Homo sapiens: one gene and its partners. The protein of the gene in region 1 purifies or fractionates together with the protein of each later gene. This does not show direct contact. Each region holds a gene or a part of one and is shown in the gene's direction. Other genes may lie near its edges. The genes, in order: RPA2, PARP2, RAD52, HMCES, TOP3A, SUPT16H and LIG3.

The links.
Region 2: the proteins of RPA2 (region 1) and PARP2 purify together in Homo sapiens (affinity purification with mass spectrometry; 3 studies listed by BioGRID and IntAct, with this or other methods). This does not show direct contact.
Region 3: the proteins of RPA2 (region 1) and RAD52 purify together in Homo sapiens (affinity purification with western blotting; 3 studies listed by BioGRID and IntAct, with this or other methods). This does not show direct contact.
Region 4: the proteins of RPA2 (region 1) and HMCES purify together in Homo sapiens (affinity purification with mass spectrometry; 4 studies listed by BioGRID and IntAct, with this or other methods). This does not show direct contact.
Region 5: the proteins of RPA2 (region 1) and TOP3A purify together in Homo sapiens (affinity purification with mass spectrometry; 4 studies listed by BioGRID and IntAct, with this or other methods). This does not show direct contact.
Region 6: the proteins of RPA2 (region 1) and SUPT16H purify together in Homo sapiens (affinity purification with mass spectrometry; 3 studies listed by BioGRID and IntAct, with this or other methods). This does not show direct contact.
Region 7: the proteins of RPA2 (region 1) and LIG3 purify together in Homo sapiens (affinity purification with mass spectrometry; 4 studies listed by BioGRID and IntAct, with this or other methods). This does not show direct contact.

What each region holds. Positions count from the first base shown.
Region 1 is NC_000001.11:27,904,576-27,908,075, reverse strand, and holds part of RPA2 (replication protein A 32 kDa subunit), read left to right. Parts: intron 1-793; coding exon 794-895; intron 896-1,034; coding exon 1,035-1,148; intron 1,149-3,500. UniProt on the Homo sapiens protein: As part of the heterotrimeric replication protein A complex (RPA/RP-A), binds and stabilizes single-stranded DNA intermediates that form during DNA replication or upon DNA stress.
Region 2 is NC_000014.9:20,356,020-20,358,404, forward strand, and holds the end of PARP2 (poly [ADP-ribose] polymerase 2), read left to right. Parts: coding exon 1-12; intron 13-287; coding exon 288-415; intron 416-570; coding exon 571-670; intron 671-1,031; coding exon 1,032-1,130; intron 1,131-1,376; coding exon 1,377-1,501; intron 1,502-1,618; coding exon 1,619-1,778; 3' UTR 1,779-1,885; downstream 1,886-2,385. UniProt on the Homo sapiens protein: Poly-ADP-ribosyltransferase that mediates poly-ADP-ribosylation of proteins and plays a key role in DNA repair.
Region 3 is NC_000012.12:943,195-946,694, reverse strand, and holds part of RAD52 (DNA repair protein RAD52 homolog), read left to right. Parts: intron 1-3,500. UniProt on the Homo sapiens protein: Involved in double-stranded break repair. Plays a central role in genetic recombination and DNA repair by promoting the annealing of complementary single-stranded DNA and by stimulation of the RAD51 recombinase.
Region 4 is NC_000003.12:129,295,870-129,299,369, forward strand, and holds part of HMCES (abasic site processing protein HMCES), read left to right. Parts: intron 1-2,484; coding exon 2,485-2,666; intron 2,667-3,500.
Region 5 is NC_000017.11:18,283,995-18,287,494, reverse strand, and holds part of TOP3A (DNA topoisomerase 3-alpha), read left to right. Parts: intron 1-1,974; coding exon 1,975-2,088; intron 2,089-2,187; coding exon 2,188-2,353; intron 2,354-3,500. UniProt on the Homo sapiens protein: Releases the supercoiling and torsional tension of DNA introduced during the DNA replication and transcription by transiently cleaving and rejoining one strand of the DNA duplex.
Region 6 is NC_000014.9:21,377,520-21,381,019, reverse strand, and holds part of SUPT16H (FACT complex subunit SPT16), read left to right. Parts: intron 1-3,500. UniProt on the Homo sapiens protein: Component of the FACT complex, a general chromatin factor that acts to reorganize nucleosomes. The FACT complex is involved in multiple processes that require DNA as a template such as mRNA elongation, DNA replication and DNA repair.
Region 7 is NC_000017.11:34,983,512-34,987,011, forward strand, and holds part of LIG3 (DNA ligase 3 isoform alpha precursor), read left to right. Parts: coding exon 1-41; intron 42-2,476; coding exon 2,477-2,620; intron 2,621-3,500. UniProt on the Homo sapiens protein: Isoform 3 functions as a heterodimer with DNA-repair protein XRCC1 in the nucleus and can correct defective DNA strand-break repair and sister chromatid exchange following treatment with ionizing radiation and alkylating agents.

The sequences.
Region 1 (3,500 bases):
AGATCACCTGAGGTCAAGAGTTCCAGACCAGCCTGGCCAACATGGTGAAACCCCATCTCTACTAAAAATGCAAAATGCTGGCACATATAGTCCCAGCTACTCAGGAGGCTGAGCCAGGAGAATCGCTTGAGCCCGGGAGACGGAGGTTGCAGTGAGCTGAGATCACGCCATTGCATGCCAGCCTGGACAACAGGAGCGAAACTCTGTCTCAAAGAAAAAAAATTTAAAAAGATGTCCAACATGGCCAAGCTCTTACTCCATTTCCCCAGGAGCTCCATTTGATAGTCAAAAAATCTGTCCTACAAGAAGCTATTCTTCTACCTTTTACAGTTCATCACAAGACCTACAAGCAATTCCAAAGTCCTGTCTCCATTAGTCATTTCTCAAACCTTTTCCCAATACCATCTCATTTTGTCAGTGACCTGAACAGCAGCACCAGCCTGTCTACACCCTAAAGCTGGGGTTTCCTCTTGAAGGTCTGTTCTGGCAGCAGCAGGTCATTCTTCCTTATCCTGTCCCCCACTCTGACCTATTCATTTTGGTGAATTCTCAGAGCAACATGTGTATCTATTCAGCAGGAGCTCTGGAGTTAGACAAACCTGGGTTTGGATTCTAAAAGTGTGGTATTGGTTTGCTATATGACCTTGGTTTCCATCTCTCTGAAGCAAGGATAATGAGATTTGTTTTGAAATTCAATGTTCTAATATATTTAAAGTACTTGGCACATGGCAGGTGTTGAATGAGTGGTAGTTATTACTTTCTTAATTGAATTTTGCATGTTTTTTCTTTTCAGAGAGCCCGAGCCCAGCACATTGTGCCCTGTACTATATCTCAGCTGCTTTCTGCCACTTTGGTTGATGAAGTGTTCAGAATTGGGAATGTTGAGATTTCACAGGTATGTCAAATAATTTGTGAAAGAATCACTTACTCATAATAAAGAATGAAATAAGACTTCATTAAAAAATACAAAAATGTAGCCTTGGTTTCAGGGGGAACCAGACCTTTTTTTTTTTTCTTTGTTTCTTCTAACCTAGGTCACTATTGTGGGGATCATCAGACATGCAGAGAAGGCTCCAACCAACATTGTTTACAAAATAGATGACATGACAGCTGCACCCATGGACGTTCGCCAGTGGGTTGACACAGATGTAAGTGGCTGTTTTTGAATCATGATGGGGTTACTTTGGAACTGTGGAGATGTTGAACTTTTTTAGTCTTTTTAAAGTTTTTTCTTATAAAAATAATACAAAAAGACATCAAAGACAGATACTCTAAAGTAAAAGGTTAGTAGATTTGACTATATACCTTCCCAATATACCAAAAACAGAATTAAAAGTCAAATGACAGGAGACAGTAGAATGTTAAGTTCCATTAGAACAAAGTTTTTTTTGAGACAGAGTCTCACTCTGTCGCCCAGGCAGTGCAGTGGTGGAATCTCGGCTCACTACAACGTCCGCATCCCGGGCTCAAGCGATCCTGTGCCTCAGCCTCCCAAGTAGCTGGGATTACAGGCACCTGCCACCACGCCCGGCTAATTTTTGTATTTTTACTAGAGATGGGGTTTCACCATCTTGGTCAGGCTGGTCTTGAACTCCTGACCTTGTGATCCACCTACCTTGGCCTCCCAAAGTGCTGGGATTATTACAGGCTTGAGCCACCACACCCAGCCCCTGCTTTTTTGTTTGTTTGTTTGTTTGGTTTTTTTTTTTGAGACAGAATCTTGTGCTGTCACCCAGGCTGGAGTGCAATGGCGCAATCTCAGCTCATTGCAGCCTCTGGGCCCCAGGTTCAAGCAGTTCTCCTGCCTCAGCCTCCCAAGTAGCTGGGATTACAGGCACCCGCCACCACACCTAATTTTTTGTATTTTTAGTAGAGATGGGGTTTTGCCATGTTGGCCAGGCTAGTCTCAAACTCCTGACCTCAGGTGATCCACCCTCCTCAGCCTCTCAAAGTGATTGGATTACAGGCATGAGCCCTCACGCCCGGCCTAGAACAAAGATTTTTATCTTGGTCACCGCTGTAGCCTTAGCACCTAGAGCAGTGCTAGTCACATAGTGGTCCTGGAATAAGTATTGTTTAAATGAATGTGGAAAATATTTGCAACATATTACAAACATTTAAATTTTTAATTAATATAAAGCTCCTTTTTGGCTTGGCATGGTGGCTCACGCCTGTAATCCCAGCACTTTGGGAGGCCGAGGTGGGCGGATCACGAGGTCAGGAGATCAAGACCATCCTGGCTAACACGGTAAAACCCTGTCTCTACTAAAAATACAAAACATTAGCCGGGTGTGGTGGCAGGCGCCTGTAGTCCCAGCTCCTCGGGAGGCTGAGGCAGGAGAATGGCATGAAGCTGGGAGGCGGAGCTTGCAGTGAGCCAAGATTGCGCCTCAAAACAAAAAAAGACAAACAGTGGTGACCTAGCAGAACTCCACAGCTTAGGAGTTTACATCAAGGAAAGAATTAAAGACAGGTACAAAGATTTAGGCCAGTGAAGTGGCTCACGCCTGTAATCGCAACACTTTAGGAAGCCAAGGCAGGCAGATCACCTGAGGTCAGGAGTTCGAATCCAGCCTGGCCAACAGGTGAAACTCCGTCTCCTAAAAATACAAAAATTAGCCGGGCGTGGTTCTGCGCACCTATAATCCCAGCTACTCAGGAGGCTGAGGCAGGAGAATTGCTTGAACCTGGGAGGCAGAGGTTGCAGTGAGCCGAGATCATGCCACTGCACTCCAGCCTGGGCGACAGAGCAAGACTCTGTCTCAAAATGAATAAATAAAAATAAAGCAATCTCAAAATACTAGCAATAAAGGATTATTAAGTAAACCATGACACATTTATAACATACTACAAATGATACAGAAAAGCGTGTATTGCCACAAAGAAGTGTTTGCCATAAATTGTTGAGAAAAGCATATTACAATGTGGTATGCAGGATTTGACCCAATTTTTACAAAGCAGCATATATATAAGTGTCTTTATAAACATGGATAAAATAGACTGAAATACAGTATATACTTTTTATCCTTTTATTTTTCAATTGTGCAGAAGGCCTCTTGGTGTTTTGTATTTTGTTTTTGAAATACATTCATTACAGAAAATTTGGATAATAAAGACTGTTTTAGGCTGGGCATGGTGACTCACGCCCGTAATCCCAGCACTTTGGGAGGCCAATGCTGGCGGGTCACCTGAAGTCAGAAGTTTGAAACCAGCCTGGCCAACGTGATGAAACTCCATCTCTACTAATGATACAAAAATGAGCTGGGTGCCTGTAATCCCAGCTACCCAGAAGCTGAGACAGAAAAATTGATTGAACCTAGGAGACAGAGGTTGCAGTGAGCCAAGATTGCGCCACTGCACTCCAGCAGATTGCGCACTGCTCTGTTGCTCTGGGCAACAGAGCAAGACTGACTCAAAAAAAAAAATGCGGTTCTCCTTCAAAAACCACAAGTTATCTATAGAGAAATAACTTGGTAGTTATGTAATTTTTAAATTTTTTC
Region 2 (2,385 bases), on another chromosome or scaffold:
TATGAGTTCAAAGTAAGAAAAATGATCATTTATTTTCATATTCTTGCACCCTTAACCACCTCCCCCATCCCACTGTTCTCTAACTACTTCTTGTCAAGAGCAAATTGTCAATTAGGGCAGACTTTTTATGTACTAGGGATTTGGGAAGGCCAAGCTTTTCCTAGCTGCCTTGTAAGACTGTTTGGGAGCAGAAAGGTCTGCCAAGTTATATCAGAATCCCCAAATTCTTCAGTTCAGCTCAGTCTCTTGTAGAGTCTACATCAGCCTTTTTGTCTTATTTTTCACAGGTGATTTCCCAGTACCTACAATCTACCCATGCTCCCACACACAGCGACTATACCATGACCTTGCTGGATTTGTTTGAAGTGGAGAAGGATGGTGAGAAAGAAGCCTTCAGAGAGGACCTTCATAACAGGTCTGAGTCTAGCTTTGCGTTTGGAAAGACACTCCTTGCCCGAAAGTACAGCTGTAGAACTTATAAGAGGGAGTCAGAGGAAGGTGTTGGCTTTTTTATGCTTATGGCCTATCTGTGCAGAACAACAGAGTACAATAATATTGGCTTTTCCTTAGGATGCTTCTATGGCATGGTTCCAGGATGAGTAACTGGGTGGGAATCTTGAGCCATGGGCTTCGAATTGCCCCACCTGAAGCTCCCATCACAGGTTACATGGTGAGTGAAATTGAACTCTGGGAGGAGCACAGGGGAAAGGGATACAGTAATGTTCTCAGTGCTTTTTTTCCTAGATTAGGATTAGATGGTTCCCCTCCCCAAGAGTTAAGCCAGCTCACTGATAACCTTGTCATCTCTTACTGTGTCCCTCTTTCTTTAAATTCCTAAAGATACCTCACCTTTCCCTCAGAAGGCGGAAATTCACAGGGGCTTCTACCCTCTCTAGAACAGAATTGTGAGGGGAAATGGAGAAGGGTCTATATTGTGTTTAAGGGAATGGAAAAACAGGGTCAGTGGTATGCACCTTCTCTCTAACACAGTGGGTTAGAAGCTGACCTTGGTATTCATGTATATATTTCAGTTTGGGAAAGGAATCTACTTTGCTGACATGTCTTCCAAGAGTGCCAATTACTGCTTTGCCTCTCGCCTAAAGAATACAGGACTGCTGCTCTTATCAGAGGTGAGACAGGAGTATGTCTGTGATCTCTAGTTTATTAATTCCAGTTTTTTTCCGATGAGAAAAGTTTGACCCCAGAACCAAGAGGTTTACCTGGGATAGCTTGAGAGAGGACCAAGTACAATTTCTAGTACATTGGATTCCTCTGCTGGAGTAGGGGAAAAAAGTACTGATGGGATTTTCTGTTTGGCTTTGGAGCCATCTAATTCTTAGTAGGATATGGGAATTCAAAGGTTTTTTGCTTTGCAGGTAGCTCTAGGTCAGTGTAATGAACTACTAGAGGCCAATCCTAAGGCCGAAGGATTGCTTCAAGGTAAACATAGCACCAAGGGGCTGGGCAAGATGGCTCCCAGTTCTGCCCACTTCGTCACCCTGTAAGTACTCAGAACCAGGAGGACTAGAAGACTCCTTTTGGCCAGATAAGACTACGTTCTCTATTGCAGCTTCTGAACCAGAGACTGATGTTGACACACTTTTTTTCCATTTGGCAGGAATGGGAGTACAGTGCCATTAGGACCAGCAAGTGACACAGGAATTCTGAATCCAGATGGTTATACCCTCAACTACAATGAATATATTGTATATAACCCCAACCAGGTCCGTATGCGGTACCTTTTAAAGGTTCAGTTTAATTTCCTTCAGCTGTGGTGAATGTTGATATTAAATAAACCAGAGATCTGATCTTCAAGCAAGAAAATAAGCAGTGTTGTACTTGTGAATTTTGTGATATTTTATGTAATAAAAACTGTACAGGTCTACCACTGGCTTCTTCGGGCTTTATTTCTCCAAGAACATATTTCTTCTGACATTAGTAGATCTCCATTTCCAGGACAGAAATTACTCATTGCTCTGAGGGTTATTCAGTATCCTGTTCTTAGTGGCATCTGTGCATTGAGGGACACTAATGGGGGCGCTAATGCTTTTACCTGTTTAATTCAATTTTTCTGCAAACTGGAATTTGTTGAGTATTATCACAGGAAGGGTAGAGGCAACAAAGGCTAAGTCGTGTTTTTCTTTCCCATGCATATGTATTCACTTGCCTTTTTCAAATTTATCCACTGCAGCCTAGGTCTCCCACTACTCAACATCCTAGGACTCATCACATGTCCAAAAATTTGGGAAGCCCTTGGAGGACTGTCACTAAGCCTGAATACATCTTGAGGAGGAAAGGAAAAAAGTGGAATGAGTTTTTACATAACCTGCTCCAACTAAGAAGTACTAAAGTCCAGGTCAGATCCTGATATGGTTAGGCTTTGTG
Region 3 (3,500 bases), on another chromosome or scaffold:
GTGCCATGTTTTTTTGTATTTTTGTGCTTTTGGTGATTTTGCTGTTTATAGGGGCCTCCAAGAATAGAAGTGCTGTCTAGCATTTCCAAGTTGAAGGCTGTGATATATCTTATAGAGAAAAGATAAGCTTTTAGATTAGCTTTGTTCAGGCATCACTTTTGTTGTTGGCTGTGAGTTCATGTTACTGCATCAACAATATATATTAAATAAGATATCTTTAAACAGAAGCACACATAAAACAAGGTTATGTATTGGCCTGTTGAGTAACCCTGTATTTCCCCTGGGAGCAGTGGCTCAGTATTTGCTAGTTCAGTGTTCATGATGGCTTTACAGGACATAACTACCCTGAATAATGAGAACTGACTGTCTCAGTAGTGCTTCAAGGGCAGAAAGCCTAGTGGATATTTTTCCATCTCTGCAGCTTTTAGCATTTCTTCACTCAAGGCACTCATTTTTAATATTGAACTGGCAGTTTTGATGTGGAGAGAAGCTAAAATAAGGCTAAAATGCTCTTCATACTATGTGCTGAGTGGGGACTGTGCTGAGTGTTGGGGATTCAGTGATTAGTGTATGGCCCCGCAGTTCTCTAATGGCTGAGTGTGGGAGTGCAGAGAAATGATCAGTGTGAGGGAATTAATCCTATGTTCCCACCGTGTTTTTTTGTTTTTTTTGAGACGGAGTTTCACTCTTGTCGCCCAGGCTGGAGTGCGGTGGCGTGATCTCGGCTCACTGCAACCTCCGTCTCCCAGGTTCAAGCGATTCTCCTGCCTCAACCTCCCGAGTAGCTGGGATTACAGGTACCCGCCACCGTGCCCAGCTAATTTTTGTATTTTTAGTAGAGACGGAGTTTCACCATGTTGGCCGGGCTGGTCTCGAACTCCTGACCTCATGATCTGCCTGCCTCGGCCTCCCAAAGTGCTGGGATTACTGGGTTCCCACAAATTTTAAGACTTACTTCAGGCCAGGTGTGGTGGCTTATGCCTGTAATCCCAGCATTTTGGGAGGCCGAGGTGGGCAGATCACCTGAGGTCAGGAGTTCGAGACCAGCCTGGCCAACATGGTGAAACCCCTGCCTCTACTAAAAGTACAGAAAATTAGCTGGGTGTGGTCGCGCATGCCTGTAGTTCCAGCTACTCAGGAGGCTGAGGCACCAGAATCACTTGAACCTGGGAGGTGGAGGTTGCAGTGAGCTGAGATTGCGCCACTGTACTCCAGCCTGGGCAACAGAGTGTCTCCCCCTCAAAAAAAAAAAGACATACTTCAGAGTGTGGTGAGCTGCATAAGGCTTTAGAGGTAATGACATTTTGAGATTTCAATTAAAAATTTTTTTTCTACTTTTTTTTTTTGAGACAGAGTCTCACTCTTGCTCAGGCTAGAGTGCAGTGGTGCGATCTTGGCTCACTGCAACCTTCGCCTCCTGGATTCAAGCGATTCTTGTGCCTTAGCCTCCTGAGGAGCTGAGATTACAGGCACCTGCCACCATGCCCAGCTAATTTTTGTATCTTTAGTAGAGAAGAGGTTTCATCATGTTAGCCGGGCTGGTCTTGAACTCCTGACCTCAGGTGATCTGTCTGCATTGGCCTTCCAAAGTGCTGAGATTACAGATGTGAGCCACCGTGCCTGGCCACTTTTTTTCTACTTTTGCTAATTTTTTTAAAGTTTCATGAACATTATAGTACTGTGTTCATAAATGAAAATAAAAGAAACTTGCTCCAGTCTTGTTCATCAAGCCGTTCTTGACCTTCACAGTCAGAATCTCACCCATCACCTTGTCACATCTCCCTCTTGATCTGTATATCCAGAGTCCACCTGACATGCTTCTTCAGCCCTCCACATATAATAAGAAATGGTTTTGTGAGCCGAGATTGTGCCATTGCACTGCAGCTTGGGCAACAGTGTGAGACTCCTCAAAAAAAAAAAAAAAGAAAGAAAAATGCTTTTAGGTGATAAGGAAATGGAGAAGAATAAAACATCTTTGCCAGTCTTTACCTTTTTAATATCTTGAATTCATGATTTCTTGCCATAGCCACTATCCTAGTCCAGGCTCTCTCCCTTCTACCCCTGAGTTTTTTTTTTTTTTTTTTTTACCATGTTTTTATTTCCTCTGGGAAAACACCTATCAGAATTTTGGGATCATATGACAGATACATATTTAATTTCTTTCTTTCTTTTTTGAGACAGGGTCTTCCTCTGTTGCCCAGGCTGGAGTGTAGTGGTATGATCATGGCTCACTGCAGCCTTGACCCCTTCCTCGCCCCCGCTCAAGTGATCCTCCCACCACAGCTTCCTGAGTAGCTGGGACTGCCGGCATGCTCCACCATGCCCGACTAACGTTTTGCTGCTTGTAGAGACAGCCATGTTCCCTAGGCTTGTCTTGAACTCCTGAGCCTCAAGCGATCCTTCCACTTCAGCCTCAAGTGCTGGGATTACAGGCGTGAGCCACCACTCCTGGCTACTTAATTTCTTTCTTTCTTTTTTTTTGAGACAGTCTCGTTCTGTCACCCAGGCTGGAGTGCAGTGGGGTGATCTCTTCTCACTGCAGCCTCTACCTTCCAGGCTGAAGCAAGCCTTCCACCTCAGCCCCCTGAGTAGCTAGGACTACGGGAACATTCCACCAGGCCCAGCTAATTTTTGTATTTTTTGTAGAGATGGAGTTTCATGATGTTGGCCAGGCTGGTCTTGAACTCCTCACCTCATGCAATCCGCCTGCCTCAGCCTCCCAAAGTGCTGGGATTACAGGTGTGAGCAACTGCACCCAGCGGGCCCCGCCCAGACCTATTTTCAAAATTAGAAAACCGTGAGGCTTCTGGAAGAAGATGAGAAGAATATCTTCATGACCTGAGTGTGTGCAAAGGTTTCTTAGGGCTCAGGATGCCAGAGTCACTTAAAAAAGCAAAAAAAACCCAAAAAAAAAACCACACACACAAAGATAAATATGATTGATTACATCAAAATGTAATCACAGACTACTCTAAGAAAATGAATGGGGAAACACAGGGACCTATTTGACAAAAGACTGATATTCAAGATAAATAAAGAACTAATAGGCCAGGCGCGGTGGCTCACGTCTGTAATCCTGGCACTTTGGGAGGCCGAGGCGGGGGGATCACTTGAGCTCAGGAGTTCGAGACCAGCCTGAGCAATATAGTGAAACCCCATCTCTACTAAAAATACAAGAATTAGAATTAGCTGGGCGTGATGGCACGTGCCTGTAGTCCCAGTTACTCGGGAGGCTGAGGCTGGAGAATTGCTTCAGTCAGGAAGATGGAGGTTGCAGTGAGCCGAGATTGTGCCACTGCACTCCAGCCTGGGCGACTGAACAAGACTTCGTCTCAAAAAACCAGTAGGGCTCCAGGCCTGGGATTGGGCCTCTGCTGCTCTACTCCCTGGACGTGTGGCTCCGTCCTTGGAGTCGGCCTTTGGTTTTCATGAAGAGTAGTGTGCATTAACAGCTGAGTGGTTTTATCAGCCTGTTTCCTGCCAACAGTGTATGAGAGTTC
Region 4 (3,500 bases), on another chromosome or scaffold:
GATATCTTTCATAATTTATGGAAATTTCTTGGCTTTTTCCTCTTCAAATATTTCTTCTGCCCCATTTTCTCTTTCTGGGATTCTAATGACACATGTGTTAGATGATTTAATTGTACCATCGTTCTTGGATATTCTCTCCATTTTTCTTTCTTTTTTTCTTCTCTGTTTCAGTTTAGATACTTTTCACTGACCGTTTTTTTTCTTTTTTTGAGATGAAGTCTCGCTCTGTCACCCAAGCTGGAGTACAGTGGTGCAATCTTGGCTCACTGCAACCCCTACTTCCCAGGTTCAAACAATTCTGCCTCAGCCTCCCAAATAGCTGGGATTACAGGCATGCACCACCATGCCCAGCTAATTTTTTTTGTATTTTTAGTAGAGACGGGGTTTGATAAGGTTGGCCAGGTGGGTCTTGAACGCCTGACCTCAAGTGATCTGCCTGCCTTGGCCTCCCAGAGTATTGGGATTACAGGCATGAGCCTCTGCGCCTGGCCATTATTGACCTATCTTTAAGTTCACTGAGTCTTTCTTATAGTTTCTGTCTCTCTGCTAACGTTCCTTATCTGTTCATATATGTTGTCCACATTTTCCACAAGAGTCTTTGACATTAATTTTACTTACTTCAAGTTCTCTGATAATTTCAGCATCTGGGAAATATAATCTCTTGAATCTGGTTCTGTTAATTTCTATATCTCTTGGTGGTTGATTGCTTTAGCTTTTTTTGTGTGTCTTGTAATTTTTTATTGTTGCCAGAGATGATATGTAGGACAGAGACTGAGATTAATAATATTTATGTCTGGAAATTCTTCTATTAGGCCATTAATATATGGGGTTAAGTCAGTCTTGTCAGGAATTGAACTGGGTTTGGGCTTTGTTCTCATTACAGTGCCTTTGTTTTGTTTTTGTTTTTGTTTTTGAGACAGAGTCTCCCTCTGTTGCCCAGGCTGGAGTGCAGTGGTGCGATCTCGGCTCACTGCAAGCTCCGCCTCAGCCTCCCGAGTAGCTGGGACTACAGGCGCCCGTCACCAGGCCCAGCTAATTTTTTGTATTTTTAGTAGAGACGGGGTTTCACCGTGTTAGCCAGGATGGTCTCGATCTCCTGACCTCGTGATCCGCCTGCCTCGGCCTCCCAAAGTGCTGGGATGACAGGCATGAGCCACCACGACCAGGCTACAGTGCCTTTGTTTGACACAGGCTTTCAAGTGCTCTGGTGTTATCCAGTGTTTAGGGTAAGGATTGACTTTCCAGAGGGTTTCTCAGCAGCCCTCCTCTCTTCAGTTGTTGGATTTTCCTGTGAGCCTGTGCCTTAGACATGGTCTTTCTTGTGCCCTTTTCCCTCTTCCAGAAGTAGACTGCTTCTGCTTGTCACTTAATGTTTGTCGGCTAAACGGGTGGAGGCAGTTCTCCGTTCAGTCTATCTTAAGCAGATGTGGCTCTCTGACTCAGTCTTCCCCAGGGCGTAGGGGGCTTTTTCTTTTTCTCCTTCCCCAGCCTCTGTGGGTCTTTACCTGATTCCTAGGCGTGACAGGGATTATTATTATTACCGTTTCCCTGGCAGCTTAAGACTTTTGCTCCTTAGGGGAAAAGTGATTAGGTGAGGCAGAGGAGCTTGCCTTTAAGGTATTCAACAGTGAGGATGGCTTCCTCCAGGCTCCTGCCCTGTGCCGTCTTTTTCGAGCACTGGCAAAGTCCAAGGAGAAAAGCCTGTGAGCTGGTGCAAACTCCTCTGAGGTTTGCAGCTCCTAGGGATTCTGTACTATCCTGCTAGCCTGTACGCTGCTTGTAGAAATGTGATAATAACATTATCTGAATTCTTAACCTGGTTGTATGAAGGCTTGTGTCTCCCTCCTGATGCTGCCAATAAGCCAGTACTTGTGTCCCATTGCCCCTTGGAGGACCTTGTCTTTTCTTAAATTTCAGGGAAATTGATCGACTTACCTCTCTGATGAGTTTAAGAAAAGTTATAATTTTGCATATTATCCAGCTTTTTTCTTATTGTTAGAATAGAAGTGACGTTCTTTCCAGCTTTCTACATTTTAGTCCTTGAATTGAATTTTGAATGGCAATTAGGAATTGGCATGAAATTCAATTCAATTAAGAAAGGGTGGGAAGGACATTTTGGGCAGAGGAAGGTTGCTTCAGCAAGACACAGGAGCATGAAATTGCATGAGAGCTTCATTTACCAACAGCTGGTTTGGGTTCAAATTAACAATGTAAGTAATAGCTAGAATGGTGGGCCAGTTCACGGAAGGCCTAAATGTCCAGTGAAGGTGTTAAATTCTGAAAGTATTAAGGAGCCATGAATCTATAGCTTCAGTTGGCATTTGCCACCAACCTTCTTTCCTTTGGTGACAGAGGGGTTAATAAGACGTGGGCTGAATTACTTTTAAAATGATTTCCGTGCTCTCGAGTCTGAAGTAGTACCTAACCTGCATGTAGAAGAAGTCTGCTGAGTGCATCTAATCTGCCCATATATTTTGCTTCCAGTCAGGTAGCATTGGTGCTGCAGATAGTCCTGAGAACTGGGAGAAAGTCTGGGACAACTGGAGGCTGCTGACAATGGCCGGGATCTTTGACTGCTGGGAGCCCCCAGAGGGAGGAGATGTCCTGTATTCCTATACCATCATCACAGTGGATTCCTGCAAAGGCTTGAGTGACATCCACCACAGGCAAGTCATACTTCTTAGCCCTGGATCCAAAAGGATCCAAAAGATGATTTGTCCTCTGCTTTTAGGTAGCTTTAGAGAGTAGGAAACCAAGTCATTTTACAACGTAAAGTTACAATCAGTTTGACTCTAACATGACATACATTCCTAAAAATCACTGTACTATGCAAAACGATAGAATAAAAACCAAATAACTTAGGGGAAAAGTGGGGTTAAGGAGACAACACTTAAAATGTTGTCAGTGACACATTAAAAAAATAATGGAAACCTAATAAAACAGTAGCACTGTTTTATACATGTTAGGTGGTTAAGAAATAAATAAATACTACAGGCTGAGCACGGTGGCTCACGCCTGTAATCCCAGCACTTTGGGATGCTGAGGTGGGTGGATCACGAGGTCAGGAGATCGAGACCATCCTGGCTAACACGGTGAAACCCCGTCTCTACTAAAAATACAACAACTAAATTAGCCGGGCATGGTGGCGGGCTCCTGTAGTCCCAGCTACATGGGAGGCTGAGGCAAGAGAATGGTGTGACCCCGGGAGGTGGAGCTTGCAGTGAGCCAAGATCGTGCCACTGCACCCCAGCCTGGGTGACAGAGTGAGATTCCATCTCAATAAATACATACATACATACATACTACAATAAATATGGCACTTTACCTCGACAAGACCTGAAGTTTGCTTGTTGCTTGTGGAAGTGAGTGTTGGAAGAAATGCATCTCATGAGTTATTGTGAAGTTGTGGAAGGAAGGTTATGTAAAATTTTTTATCTTTTGCAGTCTTAAATCCTGGGGCACAGTTTTCCTCCTATGAACGTATTTCCTTTGAGGCATGC
Region 5 (3,500 bases), on another chromosome or scaffold:
GAGTGTAGTGGCACGATTTCAGCTCACTGCAACCTCCGCCTCCCAGGTTCAAGAGATTCTCCTGCCTCAGCCTCCTGAGTAGCTGGGACTACAGGTGCGCATCACTGGCTAATTTTTGTATTTTTAGTAGAGATGGGGTTTCACTGTTAGCTAAGCTGGTCTCGAATTCCTGACCTCAAATGATCCACCCGCCTCGGTCTCCCAAAGTGCTGGGATTATAGGCCTGAGCCACCATGCCCAGCCAGACTTTTTTGTTTTATGTAGGGACAGGGTCTTGCTATGTTGCCTAGTCTGGTCTTGAACTTGCACCCTCAAACTGTCCTCCTACCTCAACCTCCCAAAGTGTTGGGATTACAGGAGTGAGCCACTGCACCTGGCCAGATTTGCCTACTTTAGTTATTTCCTATAAAGAGCCAGGCACAGTGGCTCACACCTGTAATCCCAGCACTTTGGGAGGCCAAGGTGGGCCAATCACTTGAGGTCAGGAGTTCGAGACCAGCTTCACCAACATGGTGAAACACTTTCTCTACTAAAAATGAAAAAATTAGCTGGGCTTGGTGGCAGGCGCCTGTAATCCCAGCTACTCGGGAGGCTGAGGCAAGAGAATCACTTGAACCCGGAAGGCAGAGGTTGCAGTTGATGGACACTTGAGTTGTTTCTACTCTTTGGCTATTATAAATAATCCTGCTGTGAACAGTTTTGTACAAGGTTTTGTGTGGATATGTGTTTTCATTTCTCTTGGGTAGACTTAGGAGTGGGATTGCTGGTTTACTTGGTAACTCTACATTTAACATTTTTAGGAACCACCAAACTTTTCTGAAGTGGCTGTACCGTTTTTCATTTCCACCAGCAAGGCACTAGGATTCCAGTTTATCCACATCCTTACTAACACTTAGTATTATCTCTCTTTTTGATTTTGCCAGTAGGTCTGAACTGCTATTTCACTGGTTTTTTTGGTTGTTTTTTTGTTGTTATTGTTGAGGTGGAGTCTCGCTCTGTTGCCCAGGCTGGAATGCAGTGGCTCGATCTCCGCTCACTGCAGGCTCCGCCTCCCAGGTTCATGCCATTCTTCTGTGTCAGCCTCCTGAGTAGCTGGGACTACAGGTGCCCGCCACCACACCCGGCTAATTTTTTTTTTTTTTTTTTTGTATTTTTAGTAGAGACGGGGTTTCACCGTGTTAGCCAGGATGGTCTTGATCTCCTGACCTCGTGATCTGCCCGCTTCGGCTTCCCAAATTGCTGGGATTACAGGCGTGAGCCACCACGCCCAGCCCTTTTTTTTTTCTTTTTTTTTTTAAAGAGAGTCTCACTCCATCACCCAGGCTGGAGTGCAACGGTGCCATCTCAGCTCGTTGCAGCCTCTGTCTCCTGGGTTCAAGTGATTCTCCTGCCTCAGCCTCCTGAGCAGCTGGGACTACAGGTGCGTGCCGCCACACCCTGCTAATTTTTGTATTTTTGATAGAGACAGGGTTTCAGCATGTTGGCCAGGCTGGTCTCGAACTCCTGACCTCAGATGATCTGCCCACCTTGGCCTCCCAAAATGCTGGGATTACAGGCATAAGCCACTGCTCCCAGCCTTCACTGCAGTTTTAATTTGCATTTCCTTCATGGCAGAGCTACATTTTGAAAGGTCCCTTTGGCCACAGCTTAAAGAATGGTTAGGGTAGAGGAAGAGACTAGAAATAGGGACACAAGCTGCAAGTATGGCTTGGACACATGGGGAAGAGAATTTTTAAAAAGAGCTTTGAAGCTGGAATTGACAGCTTTCCTGAGTAATGGGATGTGAGGGAACAAGAGAGTTGAGGTTGCCATTGTGATTTCTTGAATGAGCTATATGGGAATGAAATGAAGGCATCTTACCTGCATAGGCTGTCCAGGCAAAGGAGGGATTCCGGGGTGAGCAAGGTGCCCATGCGCCACCCGGGTGGAGCTGTTGTCTGTATTACCTCAGAGTAACCAGCAAGTGGCTTCCAGGTACGGATGCCACTCATGCGGAGCACATCGAGACCATCAAAGCCCGGATGTACGTGGGCCTCACCCCAGACAAGCGGTTCCTCCCTGGGCACCTGGGCATGGGACTTGTGGAAGGTAAGGGAGGACAGAGCTTGCAGTGGGTAGTGGGTGGTGTCGCCCAAGTCCCTGAGGGTCTCAGGTGGGCCCTCACTGAGCTCGACTCTCTCCCTGCAGGTTATGATTCCATGGGCTATGAAATGTCTAAGCCTGACCTCCGGGCTGAACTGGAAGCTGATCTGAAGCTGATCTGTGATGGCAAAAAGGACAAATTTGTGGTTCTAAGGCAGCAAGTGCAGAAATACAAGCAGGTTTTCATTGAAGCGGTGGCTAAAGCAAAGAAGTAAGTCCTTAAAAGAAATACAGAGGGGTCTCACTATGTTGCCCAGGCTGGTCTTGAACTCCTGGCCTCAAGAGATCTTCCCACCTCAGCCTCCCAAAGTGTGGGGATTACAGGCGTGAGCCACCGCATCTGGGCCAGTCAGAGTTTATAACCCTGCCAGATTCATCCTCACCAGTGGCCTCCTGGCCTGGAGGTTTTCCACATACCCCTTTTCTTTGGACTTTCTTCTCTGGGTTCTTTTACAACTCTCCATAGAGCTTTGTCAGTATAGAAACAGTAATCGGAACAGTCTCCTTCAGTTATTCTGAACTATTGGCTTTAGAAATACCATTCTCTTGATTTTAATTATCTTTTTTTTTTCTGCTTTAATTACATGACACATTAATTATCTTGAGTTAGGCAACAAAGTCTTTTAAATCAGTAAACCCAAGTGCTGGAGTGTGATCCATTTGTTTTCTGGAGCATTTAGAGGTGGATATTTAGCAAGCAGCATGTGTGTATTTTGTTAGAAATGATGTGTTTTCTACCTGTGATATTATGATTTATAATAAGATATATATATTTGGACTTCATTTTCTGATACCCTTGGAATTTTTTAAGTGCTGTGTCTGTTGTATACAAATGAGATGACTAGTGGCCAAGGGCTCCTGGGTAGCCTTGGGATCGGTCTGGTTGTCAGGGAACCAACCCTGTGATTAGAAGGTTGGGACTTTGAGTCCCACCCCTACCTCAGGAAGAGCAGAGGGGCTGGAGGTTGAGTTGATCACACGTGGCCAGTGATTTGTCAATCATGCCTAAGTAATAAATCCTCCATAAAATCCCCAAACAAGGGTCAGGCACGGTGGCTCACGCCTGTAATCCCAGCACTTTGGGAGGCCGAGGCGGGTAGATCACAAGGTCAGGAGTTCAAGACCAGCCTGGCCAACACAGTGAAACCCCTTTCTCTGCTAAAAAAAAAAAAAAAAAATACAAAAATTAGCCAGGCATGGTGGTGCGTACCTGTAGTCCCAGCTACCTGGGAGGCTGAGGCAGGAGAACTGCTTGAACCCGGAAGGTGGAGGTTGCAATGAGCCGAGATTGCCCCACTGCAGTCCAGCTTGGGCAACAGAGTGAGACTTCTTCAACAACAACAAAAACAAATCAAACA
Region 6 (3,500 bases), on another chromosome or scaffold:
TGTATTATTAGAATATCGCAGGTGGTAGTGGTGGTTCCTGGAAATGGGCTGCATGTTTCTTTGTCCTCTTATGCCTACTAGATCCTTCTTCAGGGATTGCCAGCCTTTTCATGATTACGATTATTTTTAACCAAGTAATATGATTAGTGCTGGTCATTGGGAGAAACAAAAGAGGTTATCTACCATCCCAGGGTTCCAGCTGCCTTGAGGGCTGAGTGGTACAATATCCAGGCATATCTGTATATCATTTGAGACCTACCTGTTGGGACATTCTGATATGAGTGGACCTTGACTTCATCTGCCTTTTTTCTTGAAGAATTCCATAAAATGTCAAAAATATTTGTTTTCAGAAGGAATACTCACATTCTTGTGAGCATACACCAACTGTCAGGATTGGGGTAGTGGAAGACTGACCCCAAAGAAATTTTATGCCTTTGAAGAAACTAATGAATTAAAGTGTCAGTGCTTCTCTTGAGTGGAGCTTTCTGGCTCTTTGCAGATTTTTATGGTGGCTTAGTTTCTTGTTCTGGGTTGTTCTATTAAGATTCAACAGCTATGTTCTGTGGCTCAGGAAGGATTTTAAAAAATACATAGTAGCTTATGCCTGTATAATCCCAGCTACTCCAGAGGCTGAGGTGGAAGGATTGCTTGAGTCCAGGAGTTCAAGACCAGCCTGGGCAACATAGTGAGAGAGAGCCCATTTCTTTAAAAAAAAAAAAAAAATTCAGTCTTCCATCAGTATCTGTCAGGGATTGCTTCCAGGACATACCTAGATACCTAAATCAAAGGATGCTCAAGTCTCTGATAACAAAATGGCATATTTGCATAGCCTATGTATATCCTCCCATTATTTTTTATTTCTAGATTACTTATAATACCGAATATAGTGTAAGTGCATGTAAATAATAGTTATACTTATTTTTTAGGGGGTAATGACATAGAAAAATGTTTGGCCATTTTAATTTTCAGTACACAGTTGAATCCACAGATAAGGAGAGCCAGCTGTATAGGCATTTCCTGTTATTTCAGTCAGGCAGTGGATTACTTCCACTCACACTCAGCTCTTAATAGCTCCTTTATCTCTGGAGTGGGATAGAGAAAGGTTTTTTTGTTTGTTTGTTTGTTTGTTTGTTTGTTTTTTGAGTTTCACTCTGTGGCTGAGGCTGGATTGCAATGGCACAATCACTGCTCACTGCAGCCTCAACCAAACCAGCCTCAGGTGATCTTCCCACCTCAGCCTCCTGAGTAGCTAGGACCACAGGTGCATGCCACAACACTTGACCAATTTTTATTATTATTATTATTGTTATTTATTTTATTGTATTTTTTGTGGAGACAGGGTTCCACCGTGTTGTCCCAGGCTGGTCTCAAACTCATGGGCTCAAGCGATCCGCCCACCTCGGCATCCCAAAGTGCTGAGATTGCAGGTGTAAGTCACTGCACCTGGCCAAGAAACTTTTTAATAATGCTGAGTAAGGAGGGTTAGATGGAAATAAATGCCCAGATGGATTGAGATTTTTTTTTAAATATTGCTTACTCAGCTTTTATAGTCTAGTTCTCTACTTTTTTTTTTTTTTTCTTTTTTTGAGACAGTCTGACTGTGCCACCCAGGCTGGAATGCAGTGAAGCATTCTCAGCTCACTGCAACCTCTGCCTCCCGGGATCAAGCAATTCTCGTGTCTCAGCCTCCTGAGTAGTTGAGATTACAGGTGTGTGCCACCATGCTCGGCTAATTGTTGTATTTTTCGTAGAGATGGGGTTTCACCATATTGGCCAGGCTGGTCTCTAACTCCTGGCCTCAAGCAATCCACCCACCCCAGCCTCCCAAAGTGCTGGGATTACAGATATGAGCCATCACACCCAGCCCTAGATCTCTACTTTTTATATTTACTTTTTATCCCTATTAACAACTACAGTGCCTGGCATATAGAAGTCACTCAGTGAACAGTGGTAACTGATTATATGGGTATTTAGCTACAACCAGACTGCAAAAATACTTTCTTTTTTTAAGGCAGTATCAGTTTGGTTCAAAGGAAGATAGTTGTTCTGCTGCTGCACTATTTCTCCAACTTTTATCATCCAGATACCACCTTCACAATTTTTGCAGATTCTTTGCCACCTGTTTTATATTTTATTTAACTCTCACTTTCAAAATTATTTTAATCAGTAATAGATATAGTTTTTTAAAAGTCATAGTTCTAATAAAAGCCTTAAAACAAAAAGTCACCTATCCCAGAGGCAACCACTTTGAGTTTTTTGTTTCTTTCATATTTCTAAATAATATCTATATATACTGCTATTTCTTGATTTGTGAATTTTTAACGGTTATTAACTTATGGTAAATCTGAATTTAACTTCTTTGTGTCATCACACTCATTCCAACTTCCCTACCTCCTGATACCTTAACATTTTTCTCCTGACACATTGATATGAAAAATTTTAAAGACAGAAAAGTTGAAAGAATTTTAAGTAAACCCTTTATACCCACCACCCCACACAGTTAACATTTTGTTGTACTTGCTTTATCACACATCCATCCTTCTTCATAACTTTTCCCCACAATTTTTAGTAAAATAAGTAGTTACTATTTACATTGTTTATGTTCATATAGATGTTTTCACTGCTGGGTGAAGTAATAAAGTATGATTAACTTTCCTTTTTTTCTACAGTTTTTTATTTTTCCTGGCATTAATGATTTCCTCAGTTTTTCTCCTTTAAAAAAAGTCTCCCTAGCCTTAATTTTTTCCAATAAATCTATTATAATGTTACCAGTCTTTTATTCTAAATTTCTCACACTCATAGAATTTTCTTCTGTTTCTTAAGAGCAACCTCACTCCCCACTTCCACCCCCCACATTATCCTGTTACCAGTCTTTTATTCTAAATTTCTCACACTCAGAATTTTATTCTGTTGCTTAAAAGCAACCTCACTCCCCACTTCCACCCCCCACATTATCCTGCTCCATCTGTATAGGTTACTCTTTAGGCCTGTTGAACCTCGGGACTTTGCAATATTGGGTCCCCTATATCCAAGAGCCTCTGCTTTGTTTTTTCTTTAGCACATTTTCTCTAAGAACTTCGTAAGAAAAGATGGGCCAGGCGCAGTGGTTCATTCACGCCTGTAATATCAGCATTTTGGGAGGCCGAGGTGGGCAGATCACTTAAGGCCAGGAGCTCAAGACTACCCTGGCCGACATGGCGAAACCCCATCTCTACTAAAAATACAGAAATTAACCAGGCATGGTGCCACATTCCTGTAATGCCAGCTACTTAGGAGGCTGAGGCACGAGAATCGCTTGAACCCAGGAGGCAGAGGCCACAGTGAGCTGAGATCGTGCCATTGCACTCCAACCTGGGCAACAGAGTGAGACTGTGTCTCAAAAAAAGAATAAATAAAAAGCTCACCACTAGCTCCACTGTAACCCCATGCAAAAAAAAAAAAAAGGATGCATAGAATATAAATGTCTTCAGCCCTTGCATGTCTTAAAGTGCTAGTTTGCC
Region 7 (3,500 bases), on another chromosome or scaffold:
GGAAGATAATGAGAAGGAACAGATAACCCAGCACATTGCAGGTAAGGTAGAGAACACTGCTTTCTCATCTTACTGGTGCTGAGAGAAAAAGGGATAAGGAGTTCAACTGCTTTCTTTCTCTTTTTTTTAACTTTGCTCTTTTAGAGATGGGGTCTCACTCTGTTGCCTAGGCCAGTGTTTAATGTTGCATTCGTAGCTCACTGCAGCTTTGCACTGCTGGACTCAGGTCATCCTGACTCAGCCTCCCAAGTAGTTGGGATTACAGGCGCATGCCACCATGCCCAGCCTTTAACGTTTTATTTGGAAATAATTTTAAACTCACTGAAGTGTTGGAAGATTAAAAATAGTACAAAGAACATTCATATTCCTTTTACCCATATTTACCTATTAACATTTTACTCTATTTGCTTTATCATATTTGTTCATGTGCTGTCTCTCTCTACATACATACACACGTGTGCGTGCACTCACTTTAAACCATTTGAGAATAAGTTGCATACATCATGGCCCTTTAAAATTCTTCAGTGTATATACCTTAAGAATAGGATATATGACCCTTATGCGACTATAATATAGCTATCATCTTCAGAAAATTTGTCCTTGATGTAATACTTAAATCTACCATCTGTATACTATTTTGTCAATGGATTGAGTCATACCTTCAGTAGCCTTTTCCTGCAGTATAGGATCCCAGTCTAGGATCATATCAGGTGTTGCATTTAGTTGTCATGTTTCTTTGGCCTCCTTTAATCTGAAATATTTCCATAGTCTCTCTTTTATGACATTGATATTTTGGAAGAATAGAGTACTGATTACTATCCTCTTTTACTTTTTTTCTTGTAGCATATAATTCATTACTGTACTTAACTAATTTGATACTTAATTGTCCCATATTTGGCCAATTAGGAACCCCTTTACACTGTCCTCTGTGTCCTGTATACCTTCATTAACTTTTTTTAATGTACTTCTTTACTCTTGAGCATAGCAAGATGCTTTTAGTCTTATCCCGTATGTATCCTTCCCCAGCCCTGAAATTGGTAATTTCTCTGGGGATTCCTGTTAGTGGGAAATGCCCCTGTTAAAGAGTAAAACCTGGATACTATGTGTCCACATTGTCATGGGGTATCTGTTTCTTCTTTTTTTTTTTTTTGAGAGTCTCACTCTGACCCAGGCTGGAGTGTAGTGGCACTATCCTGTTAGTGGGAAATGGTATTAAAGAGTAAAACCCGGATACTATGTGAACACATTGTCATGGGGTATCTGTTTCTTCTTTTTTTTTTTTTTGAGACAGAGTCTCACTCTGTGACCCAGGCTGGAGTGCAGTGGCACTGTCTTAGCTCACTGCAACCTCTGCCTTCCAGGTTCAAGCAATTGTCCTGTCTCAGCCTCCCAAGTAGCTGGGACTACAGGCACTTGACACCACACCCAGCTAATTTTTGTGTTTTTAGTAGAGACAGGGTTTCACCATGTTGGTCCAGCTGGTGTTGAACCCCTGACTTCAAGTGATCCACCCACCTTGGCCTCCCAAAGTGCTGGGATTACAGGCCTGAGCGCCCAGCCATGGCATGTCTGTTTCTAAGCCCTTTCAGCAGACAGAGCTAGAAAATATGTGCGTGTATATGCATGTAAAATTCATACCTATATATGGCTATATATAACATGTTTGCATGTACATGCATATTTACATATGCATATTTTAGAAATTTTATGCCAATACCCCCAAATCCAGTTAGTCCTCTTTGACCTTCAGTGTCTGTAAAATAATGTTCATATCTTCAACTTAGTTCTGGTCACCATAGGAAGACAGTTAACAATGGCTCTAAAAATGGGTATCTGTCCTTGTTCTTTGAAAGGAAAAAAGACTTCCGGGAAAGAAAACTGTGCTTCCCATATACTTTATTCTCAGGCTCCCCATCCCACCTTGCACTGCCTTAGCTATTGGCCTCGGCCTTTGTTACTTCTTGACCCATCTCTCATTTGGAGGAAGAGAAATACAGGTAGAGTTCATGACTCAGATAACTAAGCATCTGGAAATTTTCCTTCCTATGCTAGGTTGACATGCTCTGTGATCCTCATTTACTTTTTGTTCATCTCTAAATTGAAGCTAATTCTGTGGGGTTGGGGGTTCCCTAAGTTTTATCCATCAAACTATGATTTCTGATTTCCCCCAAATTGTTATTTCTGGAGACTTACATATGGGATAAGAAGTGGAGAATGTTGATGAAAATTTAAGGTACTAATAGAGATAAATGGTAACTGGATCTTTTGTCTCCAGCATATCCTTCCCTTCTGTCCCCACAATACCCTATTACCTACTACCCCCACTCAAAAAATACCAGCCACCAGCCAGCCTTGGGCTAGTGCTAGGGTAGTGACTTAACAAGCAAGGCCCTAGGAGCAGTTGATAGATTCTTTGGATGTTTTTTTCAGAGATCGTTCACTGAAGGATATTTTATACTCTTTTGGGATCCTACAGATCTGTCTTCTAAGGCAGCAGGTACACCAAAGAAGAAAGCTGTTGTCCAGGCTAAGTTGACAACCACTGGCCAGGTGACTTCTCCAGTGAAAGGCGCCTCATTTGTCACCAGTACCAATCCCCGGAAATTTTCTGGCTTTTCAGGTAAGATAGGTTAGGGCTACTTTAGCTGTTATAGTGCTGCTTTTATTTTGTATTCTACCTAGGATTCTGGCTAAAGAGTGAAAATTCTGTGCTATCTCATCTCATTAATAATTTGCTTCTGTCTGAGCAGAGACTGGTAATGGCTAATTCTAAGCCTTCCGCTTGGTTTTTGTTTGTTTGTTTGTTTTTTGGTTTTGGGGGTTTTTTTGAGATGAAATCTTGCTCTGTCATCCAAGCTGGAGTGCAGTGGTGCATTCTCAGCTCACTGCAACCTCCGCCTCCTGGGTTCAAGCGATTCTCCCACCTCAGCCTCCCAAGTAGCTGGGATTACAGGCACCTGCCACCATGCCTGACTAATTTTTGTATTTTTAGTAGAGATGGGGTTTCGCCACGTTGGCCAGGCTGGTCTCAAACTCCTGACCTCAGGTGATCCACCTGCCCCAGCTTCCCAAAGTGCTGGGATTGCAGGCGTGAGCCACTGCGCTCGGCCAGCATTCCACTTGTATAGCATTTCTTTGTATACTTTAACCTCTATCGCAGCGGAAAGATTTGTTTTGTCAAGACTTTTTCCCCTTGAAATAGTTACCTGGGCCAGACAGAGATTATTAGAACCTGTCTTTTACTTCCTTGTGTTTTGATAATGAAAGAATTTTGAGAAATTGTTTCCCTGAATATGCCTAGAAATGAAAGTATGAAAGAAGGGAGATGTCATGCATGGATCTCCCTTCTTGATTCTTAAAACTGTTTATTCAAAACACTGGAACTTCATGGAACACAAAGGAAGGAAAAAAAGATCTGAAGGATATTGCTATTTGTTGGGAGGCAGTACAGCCTAGGGATGAAGCTTGCAGACTTTGGAATCAGTGAGCTCTGGGTTCAA